Regions from separate parts of the Homo sapiens genome. Here region 1 is linked to region 2. The links come from fine-mapping of genetic effects on gene expression. Tissue or cell type: gastroesophageal junction. Region 2 holds a variant in brackets; the other region holds the start of a gene. All regions are shown on one strand. Distances are between the middles of the regions.

Region 1 (5,126 bases), 73 kb before region 2:
GCCTGTAAATGCATTGCGTTTGTAAAAGGAAAATAAATTAACAACAAGTGTTTGTTTTTCAAGCATGAGAGAGGGCCCACACCTGGCTCAGGAATGCAGCCTCGGCCTCTGGCTCCTGAGGCCCCTGCAACAGTTGTTAGAGGCCTGCTTCCGGTCTCATGCTGCCCCTGAGCGTCTAGGGATGGTGGGCAGACCCTGAACTGGGTTCCTAACCCCCCTGTCTAAGACATGCCAGTGTCTTCAGCCCCTTGTCGCCTACATTCTTCTCCCACTGGTTCTCTCATTGTGCACGTCCCTCCCTACCTCCTGATCTCCAGAAGAGCTAGGCTGAGAGGTGAGCACCAGTGGACTCCTTTGGGCCCCACCTCAAATCCTGTCTGCAGCACCAGCTGCTGCTGCTGCTACTAAACACCAAAAGCCTGACAATCAGCTGCTTCTCCAACCCGGTGGCAGTTGCTGGGATCAGTTGTATACTACCATGAAACCCTGTCGTCTCACTCTCAAACCCAAAATCCAAGGCACAACCAAGAGACATCGCTCTAAGCTGAAGTGCACCTCTGGAAGCTACTAGAACAGCCAAAGATGCTCTTAACACACGTGCATACATGGATGCAATTGCAAATGAGGACATAGGTGGGTACAAACACCAGGGCCATGTTCGTACTCAAACACAGAAGCAGACACACACACCTATGCATACATAATCACATGTGCACACTTATGCATGTGGCACTCAAGCAGGTACACAGGCAGAGTGGTGGTTATGGACTAGGACATCCAATTACCCAATTCCAGAGATGTTTATTGAGCACTTTCTAAAGTCCAAGTTTGGTTGCTGGGCTCTGGGGATGCAGAGATGGGTAAGCCACTCACAGAACATTCCACAGCGATCGGCTTCTGTGCAAAGCAGAATATGGTGTTGGGAGGAGTAGAATCACAGGATTTGAGGGCTGAGGCGGGAGACAAATTCAGGGGTACCTCCCATTTATAGAGTGTTTCGTAGTTTCTAGATCACAGCCACAGGAGGCAGCGCAGCTACTTTCCCGTTTTACTTTAGGATGTATGTGGCCTAGGAGAGGCTGGCCTTGGGTCTTAAAAGCTGTACTGCCTCCTGGTTCCTATTACTGTAACTAGGGATTTCTGTGATCCCTGGGGTGGTGGTCCAGGCCTTTGATGGACCCGTGGTGACCCATGTGACTCTGACCCACATGGCCTCCACCTCCCCATCCCCTAGTTTGGGTCATGGGCTTCACAGGCCACGTCGCTGAGGACACTGTAAGATTGCACTTAGGGCCAGGTGCGGTGGCTCACACCTGTAATCTCAGCACTTTGGGAGGCCGAGGTGGGCAGATCACCTGAGGTCAGGAGTTCGAGACCAGCCTGGCTAATATGGTGAAACCCTGTCTCTACTAAAAATACAAAAATTAGGCCGGTGTGGTGGCGGGCACCTGTGATCCCAGCTATTCAGGAGGCTGAGGCACAAGAATTGCTTGAACCCGGTGAACCTAGGAGGCGGAGGTTGCAGTGAGTCAAGATCACACCACTGCACTCCAGCCTGGGCGATAGAGTGAGACTCCATCTCAGAGAAAAAAAAAAAGCAAAACAAAACAAACAAATCCCAAACATTTCCACTCTGGATGCCAGCTTGAAGGCTCTTGGTCTTGTCCTTGACTTTTAGGCAGTCCTTAGCTCCCAGAGAGAGCAGCATTAAAAATCATCATCAGCAAAGTACTTCATTAGGCATAGCTTTTAATAATGCGGAATGCTCAATTTTTATTGAAATATGTTTGTCAAAACACAGATAGAAAATGCTAGAAATAGAGCACCCCAGAATGCCAGAGCTGGGAGGCATCTGAGAAGCTTCTAGTCTAATCTTCTCCTTTGACAGATGAAGCCTGAAGATTTGGGGGTTGGTTCTCACTGAGGCTGTGCCCTGGGTTGCCCCAGGTGCTGTGAGGAACAGGAATGGAGGCACATGGCACCCACACTGGTCTCTGAGATGCCATCACTCACAGCTTCTCCCCATCAGCCAGGGCCTTGGACACAGCCCGAGCCTGAGTTGAAACCTGGCCCTGGAACAGGAAGTGCTTGGAAGCTTCCCTGCCGTTGCCGTGGTGCTCACAACCACCCAGGAAACCAAGGCAAGCTCCCCCTGTCAAAGCACCTTGGCCCATAAGAAGAAAAGGGGGAGCCCCAGATGTGATGAGCGCTTCCAGGCTTCAGGCTCAGAAGGCGCCCCCAGCTCTCCTGTAACTCAGAGGCCAGTGTGATGGGAGTTCCTCCACTCAGCACACTTCCCCTGTAAACACGCCTGTGGTGGGCAAAAGGGCTTTGGAACGGTAAGTACAATGGGTATTTTTCAGCCACTTCAGAGACCAAGAAATGTGTCCTAGTGACAGGTGCTGTCTTAGCACCTGTCTAGACCCAGTGTTAGACTTGGGTGCCTCTGGTCTACTTGGCAGGGAGGGAGTTTAGGGAATCAGGAGGGGTCTGGGAGCTGAGAGACCATTGTAGGTAGCTCCTGCCCGCCCACAGGGACCTTGGCACAGGCTCTCAAAACACACGAAGGGGCAGATTGCCTGGTGGGATGAAAAAAGAACACATTTCCAGGCCATTGAGATGTCTCTGGATTTCAAGATCAGCTAAAAAAGTTCTTAGATATTGATCTAAGAAAGCAGGAGCTTTGGGTAGCTGAGTGCAAACCCCAGCCTCCCTCTCTCTGTAACTGAAGCGGTGCTCTGTGGGCATAGCGAGTCCCGTGTGGGGTTTATTCTGTGCTGACCAGGTCTGCTTTAGAATGGAACCCTCTTCTCTCTTCTCAGATTCCTTAAGGCCACGTTGAGGATTTGGGGGTCTATGTCTAGGGCAGTGGGAAGCTGGTGAAGGGCTTTAAGCTGAGGAGTTCATCATCCTGGCTCCTGTGAGGTAAAGGGATCAGAAAAGCATGTATGTGTTACCTGAGGTGGGAGAAGCCTCACGCAAGGTGGAAACTCAGCCATCAAGGAAAACACACATTGCTGTAAACTCAAGTGCACCTCTGAAAGCTGGTTGAACAGCCAAAGATGCTCTTAACACACATGCATACATGGATGCAATTGCAGATGAAGACACCAGCAGCTGGGTACAAACACCAGGGCCATGTTTGTACCCAGACACGTTTCTTTTTCTTTTTTCTTTCCCCTCGAGACAGAGTTTCGCTCTTGTTTCCCAGGCTGGAGTGCAATGGTGAGAGTTTGGCTCACTGCAACCTCCACCTCCAGAGTTCAAGTGACTGTCCTGCCTCAGCCTCCCAAGTAGCTGGGATTACAGGCATGCGCCACCACACCCAGCTAATTTTGTATTTTTAGTAGAGACAAGGTTTCATCATATTGGTTAGGCTGGTCTTGAACTCCTGACCTCAGGTGATCCACCTGCCTTGGCCTCCCAAAGTGCTGGGATTACAGGCATGAGCCACTGGGCCTGGCCCCAGATATGTTTTCAAATTAGAGACTGGCAAAGGAAATACACACACACACACACACACACACACACAGGACATATTTTCATACTAATGAAACAATTTGTTTACCATAAACAAAGTCAAAAGACAAATGATACACTTCTGCAGCATGTATGGCAGACAAAATGTTAGTGTCCCCAGTACATAGAGGGCTCCTTAAAAAATGCTAGTGAGACTACAGTAACCCAGTAGAAAATTGCGGAAAACCTATGATTAGGCAGTTTTCAGAAAAGAAAAATTAAACAGCCAATAAATAGATAAAAGAATGCTCAACCCCACTGGTAGCCAGGAAAGTTCAAATTAAAGTAAGAATCTGAAACCATCTGACACTCACCAGCTTGGCAAAAATAAATACGATGATACTACCTAGTACTAAAGATGTTGTGAAAAAAATGACAACACTTATAAATTGGTGATAGGAATGTTAATTGCTGCAATTTTGGGGCAAGTGAATTGGTATTAACTATTTCAATTGAAGATACAGATCTCTGACATAACTATACCACTTGGAAGACTATTTCATAGAAATAAAAACAGCAACACAAAGATATATATATATATATATATATATACACACATACATACATATATATACAGATGCAGATATAGGTAACATGTATAGATATATGTATACACACATGTACACAAACTGCCATAATAATGTGTATGCATATTGTTCCCATTGTTTTTATTATGGGAATAAAATATAGGAAATAACCTCAATGACTTGGCAGAGGAATATTTTAATAAATAATGATGCATTCACTGTATGAAATATTATGCGGCCAGAAACAGTGTCTCATGCCCATAATCCTGGCACTTTGGGAGGCCAAGGCAGGAGGATTGCTTGATATCAGGAGTTCAAGACCAGTCTGGGCAATATAGATCAGTCTGGGCAACCCTGGCTCTAGAAAAATTAAAAAATTAGCCAGGTGTGGTAGCGGACACCTGTAGTCCCAGCTACTGGGGAGGCTGAAGTGGGAGGATCACTTGAGCCCAGAAGATTGAGGCTGCAGTGAGCCTTTATCACACCACTGCACTCCAGCCTGGGCAACAGAGCAAGACCCTGTCTCAAAAAAAGAAAAAGTGATATTATGCAGCTATGTTAAATTTTTCTTTCCTGTCATTGTATTGGTTCACTAGTTACAACAAGCATATATTATTAATACTTTTGCAATTAAAAAGTCCAATTAAGGCAATTAAAAGGCAAAGAAAAACCTGTCTGCCCAAGTGGAATGGAAATTCTATGAGGCAAGGATCGTGTGCATTTTGCTCACTGCTGTCTCTCAGAAACGGCTAACGCCTCTCTCCATATGGCGACTGCACAGGAGATGCTTGTTGGTGAATGGATGAACATAGCCATGGCTGTGATGCAGGTGAAGTGCTGTTTGGGGAGCAAAGGGAGGTCAGCTGAGGTTCTTGGTCATCAAGTGCCGTGGCTTCTGCTGGTTTCACCAGCTCACCCACTTCTCCTCTTCTCTGATGTTGCTCTGGGGAACTACCCAGTCCCCAGTGCACGTTCTTGTTGGGAGAATTAGTCAAGGTGTCTGCCCTCAGGGGCCAAAGAGTGGGCCCCTGAGCTAAGCCAGGCCAGTTGGGGCCTCTTGCTGAGAATCTGGATTGAAAA
Region 2 (5,210 bases):
GTATTTTCCATGTCTGATAAGAAGGAAGCTGAGGCCGGGCATGGTGGCTCACACCTGTAATCTCAGTACTTTGGGAGGCCAAGGTGGGTGGATCACCTGAGGTTAAGAGTTCAAGACCAGCCTGGCCAACATGGTGAAACCCTGTCTCTACTAAAAATACAAAAATTAGCTGGGTTTGGTGATGCATGTCTGTGATCCCGGCTACTTGGGAGGCTGAGGTGGGAGGATTGCTTGAACCAGGAAGGTGGAGGTTGCAGTGACCTGAGATTGCACCACTGCACTCCAGTCTGGGCCCAGAGAAAGTAAATTTATTCATCCAAGTCTCCTCAGTGTGGCAGAGTTGGGAGTCCAGCTCAGGCCTGGCCACAGGCCTATCTGTTTCTATTTCCCCTGATGGCCCACTGAGAAGAGTGGAAATGTTTTAGGGTGTTTCATTCAAGTATTTCTTGAACACCTATCTGTTCAAAAGCAATGCGCACGGAGCATATGCTACGCGCCTGGCTGCGGTGTGCAGGGTGTGCCTCATATGATATCTCATTCGATTATGATGGGGACTTGAGCAGGGGCAAGGGTGGGAGAGTGGCACGTACCTGGGCCTGGAAGGATGGGGGGCTGTCCTTGTAGGTGGGGATGGAGGGAAACGGTACACAGGTGGTGTTCCAGCCTCATGGCTCTAGGACTGAATATGCATCTGAATTACCTGGGACTTTGTGCTTGCGCAGATCCTGGGCCCCGGCTGAGAGAGGCTGATTTTGAAGTCTGAGAGACACTCAGAAATCTGCACTATAACAGGCTTCCTGGGGGATGCTGATGCAGGGTGTCTGTGGATCACATCCAGAAACTGATCTGTGTGTCAATTCCACAGCAGGGTTTCTTACTGTGCTCCATACACCCAATTGTCTTCCTTACCCAGTGCCAAAACAAAATCCAAACAATAACAAAAAACCTGTGAATTGATTTCACCACACTGGCTGATTCGAAACAAAGCAAAACTGATTTCCTAGAATATGAAATAAACAGAACTTAGTAATGAGGCCCCTCCTGTGGGTGAGCCATAATTCACAGTCCACCCCTTTCCACTAGGGGGCATGGTCCACCTCAAAAATTTTAGTGGCAAAAATTTGCAACCTAAAAACTCGTTTTACAGCAGGGAGTCCCCTTGCTTTGTGGTTGAAAGTGGAGCTGTTCGTCCTGGGAGAGGCTCTGTTTATCCAAACATCCACAGTATGCACATCATAAAATCTCTGAACTTGAGAAGTGTTAGTCTTGAGACAAAAAAATCTTAAAATAATTTTACAAGCTTTTCTTACAAGGGAGAAATTCGTAGAGATTCAAGGGAGAACTTGAATTTTAAAGCCCAAAGTCCCAATGCCCAAAGCAGTGGCCATGAGCACTGGTTAACGAAACCTCTTATGTGCCATGTCTGAAACGCCTCGTTCACTTCTCCTGATGCCCTTCTGGCTCACCTCCTAGCCGCTCACCTCCTATCCCCTCCCCTCCAACGGGGGAGATGGCCCTGGACTCATTTGGTGCACACCAAGTCTTTCGGGTTCTAGAGTACAACTGACCTGGGTTTGAGTCTCAGCGCTGCCCCTTATCAGCTGTATGGCCTTAGGCAAGCCATCTAACCTCTCTGAGCCTCAGAGACTGATCTGAGATAGGCAATCAAACTCATGGTAAAAATTAAATAAGTTGATGTTTTTTGTAAAGCACCTACCACATAATACGTGCTTTATACAATTTATTCCTTATTTTTTCACCCTTATTGCTTGGAGTCAGGGAGTACTTGTTGAAGGTCAAAATGGTTGCTGTGCGATCTTGGGACAGTCCCTTTTCTTTCTCTGGGCCTATTTCCCTTTATGCAAAATGAAAAGGTTGACCCAGGTGCTCTCTGCAGTCTTTCCAGCTGCAATCATCAGATTCTCAAATTCTGTGAATACGAAAGAACAGATGTGAGTTGTTGAGCCTGTGAACCAGAAGGAGGAGGATCTGGGGAAAGGAACTGTCTTATTTTCCCGTGGGCTCATCAGAATGGGAATGAATTGGAAAGAGTAGGAGAAGGTTTTTCCTCGCCCCTCTTTATAGGGTTTTGCATCCGGGAGACTGGAGCATCTTGTAATACCGGGGAGGAGAGAGTTTGTTCTTGCTCTTGTAAGCCTAGGCTACTGTTTGGGGTTCGCCATGCTGTTGGGGAGAAGAGTGAGCTTCCCAGGGATGACCTGGGTACCAGAAGTCCCAGGCCCTGCTTGCACACGGGGGTAGGTGTAGGATATGGGGAATTGGGCCTCTGGGCCCTGAGGCCTTGAGAGCTGGCGGGTATAGAAGGAGGTTCTCCTGGAGGAGAGAGAGACAGAAGAAACCTCTGTGAGACAGACCCTGAGGGCAGCACCAGCCAACTGAACTTTCCGCAATGATGGGAATGTCCCACATCTGCTCCATCCGATGTGGTATCTGATGTGGTATCCGATGTGGTATCCGATGTAGCCGTTAGTCATGCGTGGCCTTTGAGCACTTCAAATGGGGTTGGAGCTAACTGAGAAACTGAGTTTTCAATTTTATTTCATTTTAATTAATTTAAATTTAAATTGCCATAAGCTTAAGTAGAAGAAGCAAGGTAAC[G/A]ACAGCACCCAACATGAAACCAGAACTGGATGCTTCCTGGCTTTGCAGACTCTCTAGGGTTCCGAGCCTCTCAGTCTCTTCCCAGGCCCCCGATGAGTGGAGCCTCAGTGGCAGGCTGTGCCCATGCCTGTGGCTCAGCCTGAGGCCACCTCAGACTTCTTTCTGGAGAAAGTCGTGCTGTGGAACAGGAAGGTTCCCATGCTGGGGAAGCGGAGTTCAGCTCTGTATTGATATTATTCTTATCTTGCTCCTTCTACTTGCGCTAACCACTTAAATTTAAATAAATGAAAATGAAATAAAATTTAAAATTTCACTCTTTGTCACTCTAGCCATGTTTCTTTCTTCCTTTTTTTTTTTTTAACTCCTCCTTGCAGAGGAGCACTAACTCACAGGCGGTGTGCCCAGAGTCGGCCAAGCCGCGTTTCAAGTGCTCCGTGGACTCAATGGCTAGTGGCTGCCCTGTGGGCTTGGCAGATGTGGGACAAAGGGCTCCTATGGCTGCTCCTCATGACTTTGAGCTCTGTGACTTTGAATGAGTCATGTGACCTTTGTGCTTTCATTCCTTGACTTTACTCACACCACAGATTTACAGTGAGCTGCTGCAGGCCAGGCTTCGGGTGAGGTTGTGAAGGTGAACAAAACACACAGTCTCCGCCATCTCAGAGCCTACAGTGTGTGGGGAAAGACAGTTATTAGTGGAATATGCACTAAAGAATGCCTGTGTGCCCTGAAGAGCACAGTTGCCTGGAGCACTGTTTCCAGAGAGCATAAAGCAAAGAAAGCTGACCTAGATCCTGGTGTGGGGATCAAGGCCCAAGGAGAGCCCTCCCAGGGGAAGCAACGCTTACACAGAGAGCTGAAGTCGGAGTGGGAATTGAAACAGGTTTAGGTGAGGATGTAGAGAAACGACTACTCATATGCTGCTAGTGGGAGGGTGAAATGGTGCAGCTGCTTTGGAAAACTGGTGGCTCCTCAAACAATTAACGTACAGTACCATGTGACCCAGCAATTCTCACCTCTAGTTACATACCCCAGAGAAAATGAAAATATATGCCCTCCCAGAAACGTGAACACGAATGTTCGTAGCAGTATTATTCACAACAGGCAAAACATGGAAATTAGCCAGGAGCGATGGCGTGCACCTGCAAAAGGGGTGAGGCGCCTGTAGAAAGGGGGTTGGCTCATGCCTGTAGTCCCAGCTGCTTGGGAGGCTGAGGTGGGAGGATCACTTGAGCCCAGGAAGTGGAGTCTGCAGTGACCCATGATCACACTACTGGACTCCAGCCTGGGTGACAGAATGAGACCGTCCTTTACAAAAAATAAAATAAAATGCTCACTTTGGTAGCAGATATACTAAAATTGGAATGATACAGAGATTAGCATCACCCCTGCAAAAAGATGACATACAAATTTGTGAAATGTTCCATGTTTTTAATAAATTTTTTAAATTAAAAAAAAAGTAAAAGAAAAAGAAAAAAAGAGAAATGGAAACAACCTAAATGTCCATCAGTGGATGCATGGATAAACAAAGTGTGGTCTATCCATGCAATAGAACATTACTCAGCCCTAAAAAGGAATGTAGGACTGGCACGTGCTACATGGATAAACCTTAAAAAGATCATGCTAAGTGAAAGAAGGCAGTCACAGAAAAACACGTATTATATAACTCCATTCATACGAAATGTCCAGAGGAGGAATGTCTACAGACAGAAAGTAGATTCGTGGTTGCTTAGGGCTGGAAGATAAGAGGATGGCCACTAAAGGGCACAGGGTTTCCATTTCAGGTGATGAAAATGTTTTAAAATTGAACAATGGTGATGGCTGGACAACTCTGTGAATATGCTGGAAACCACTAAACTGTACACTTAAGTGGGCGAATTGTATGATACATTAATTCTATCTCAATAAAACTGGGGCTTTTTTGAAAAAAAAAAAAAAGGAGGAATTGGGGGCTCAGGAGAAGATTCAAGCCCAGACAACATGTGAAAGTGAGCCTGGTACCTTTAAAAAACACGGGAGAAGGCCCCAGTGGGCAGAGCCAGCAGAGCCAGCAGCAGAGGCTGGAGATGTGGGCAGCTGGGACATCCCTGGATTTTGGTCTCTTTCTCAAGACCACCTAGTATTCAAGAGTTTCAGGCCTGGGGCCACCCTGATGAAACCTGGGTTTTGAAAAAGTTTTTCTAGATGCTGTTTGTCAGCAGAGGTGAGGGGGGCTTGGGAAAGAATGCCAGGTGTCAACATGGTGTGGGATGTGTTGTGGGTGAGCAATGACTATCTGGACCAGTGATGCAGGGGTAAAAGAATTTACCAAGACAGTTGTAGATAATGAAAGGCAAATTTACTAGAGAAAGTATGAAACTATGTAGTGAGAAGGCAATGGGCAGGCCAGCAGAAGAGGAGCTGACTGCAAGGAAACAAAGGCTGGCTGGAGATTTTATAGAATAATGCTTATGCTATATGCCGAAGAGGGCTTTGTGCAATACTAATAATGCAAGGTTGCAGTGAGCCAACTTGCAGGTGTCTGGTGATAAGCTGGGTGCACGAGGGGTACCTGTTCTGGGCCATGAAGAAAGGCAGATTTGCGGCTTACC

The links. PIP is the estimated chance that this variant, and not a neighbour inherited with it, causes the effect.
Region 1: it holds the start of BTBD16, and the variant in region 2 is fine-mapped to the expression of BTBD16 in gastroesophageal junction (GTEx, PIP 0.99). The same link has a PIP of 0.9 or more in skeletal muscle.

The regions. Positions count from the first base shown.
Region 1 is chr10:122,269,176-122,274,301 of GRCh38, forward strand. BTBD16 (BTB domain containing 16) reads left to right here and starts at 2,121. Exons shown (of 16, transcript NM_144587.5): 1 at 2,121-2,339.
Region 2 is chr10:122,341,742-122,346,951 of GRCh38, forward strand. It overlaps the pseudogene RNU6-728P. Among named protein-coding and RNA genes, the nearest start is that of PLEKHA1, 30 kb to the right of the region's middle. The variant G/A (reference allele first, on the strand shown) is at 2,620.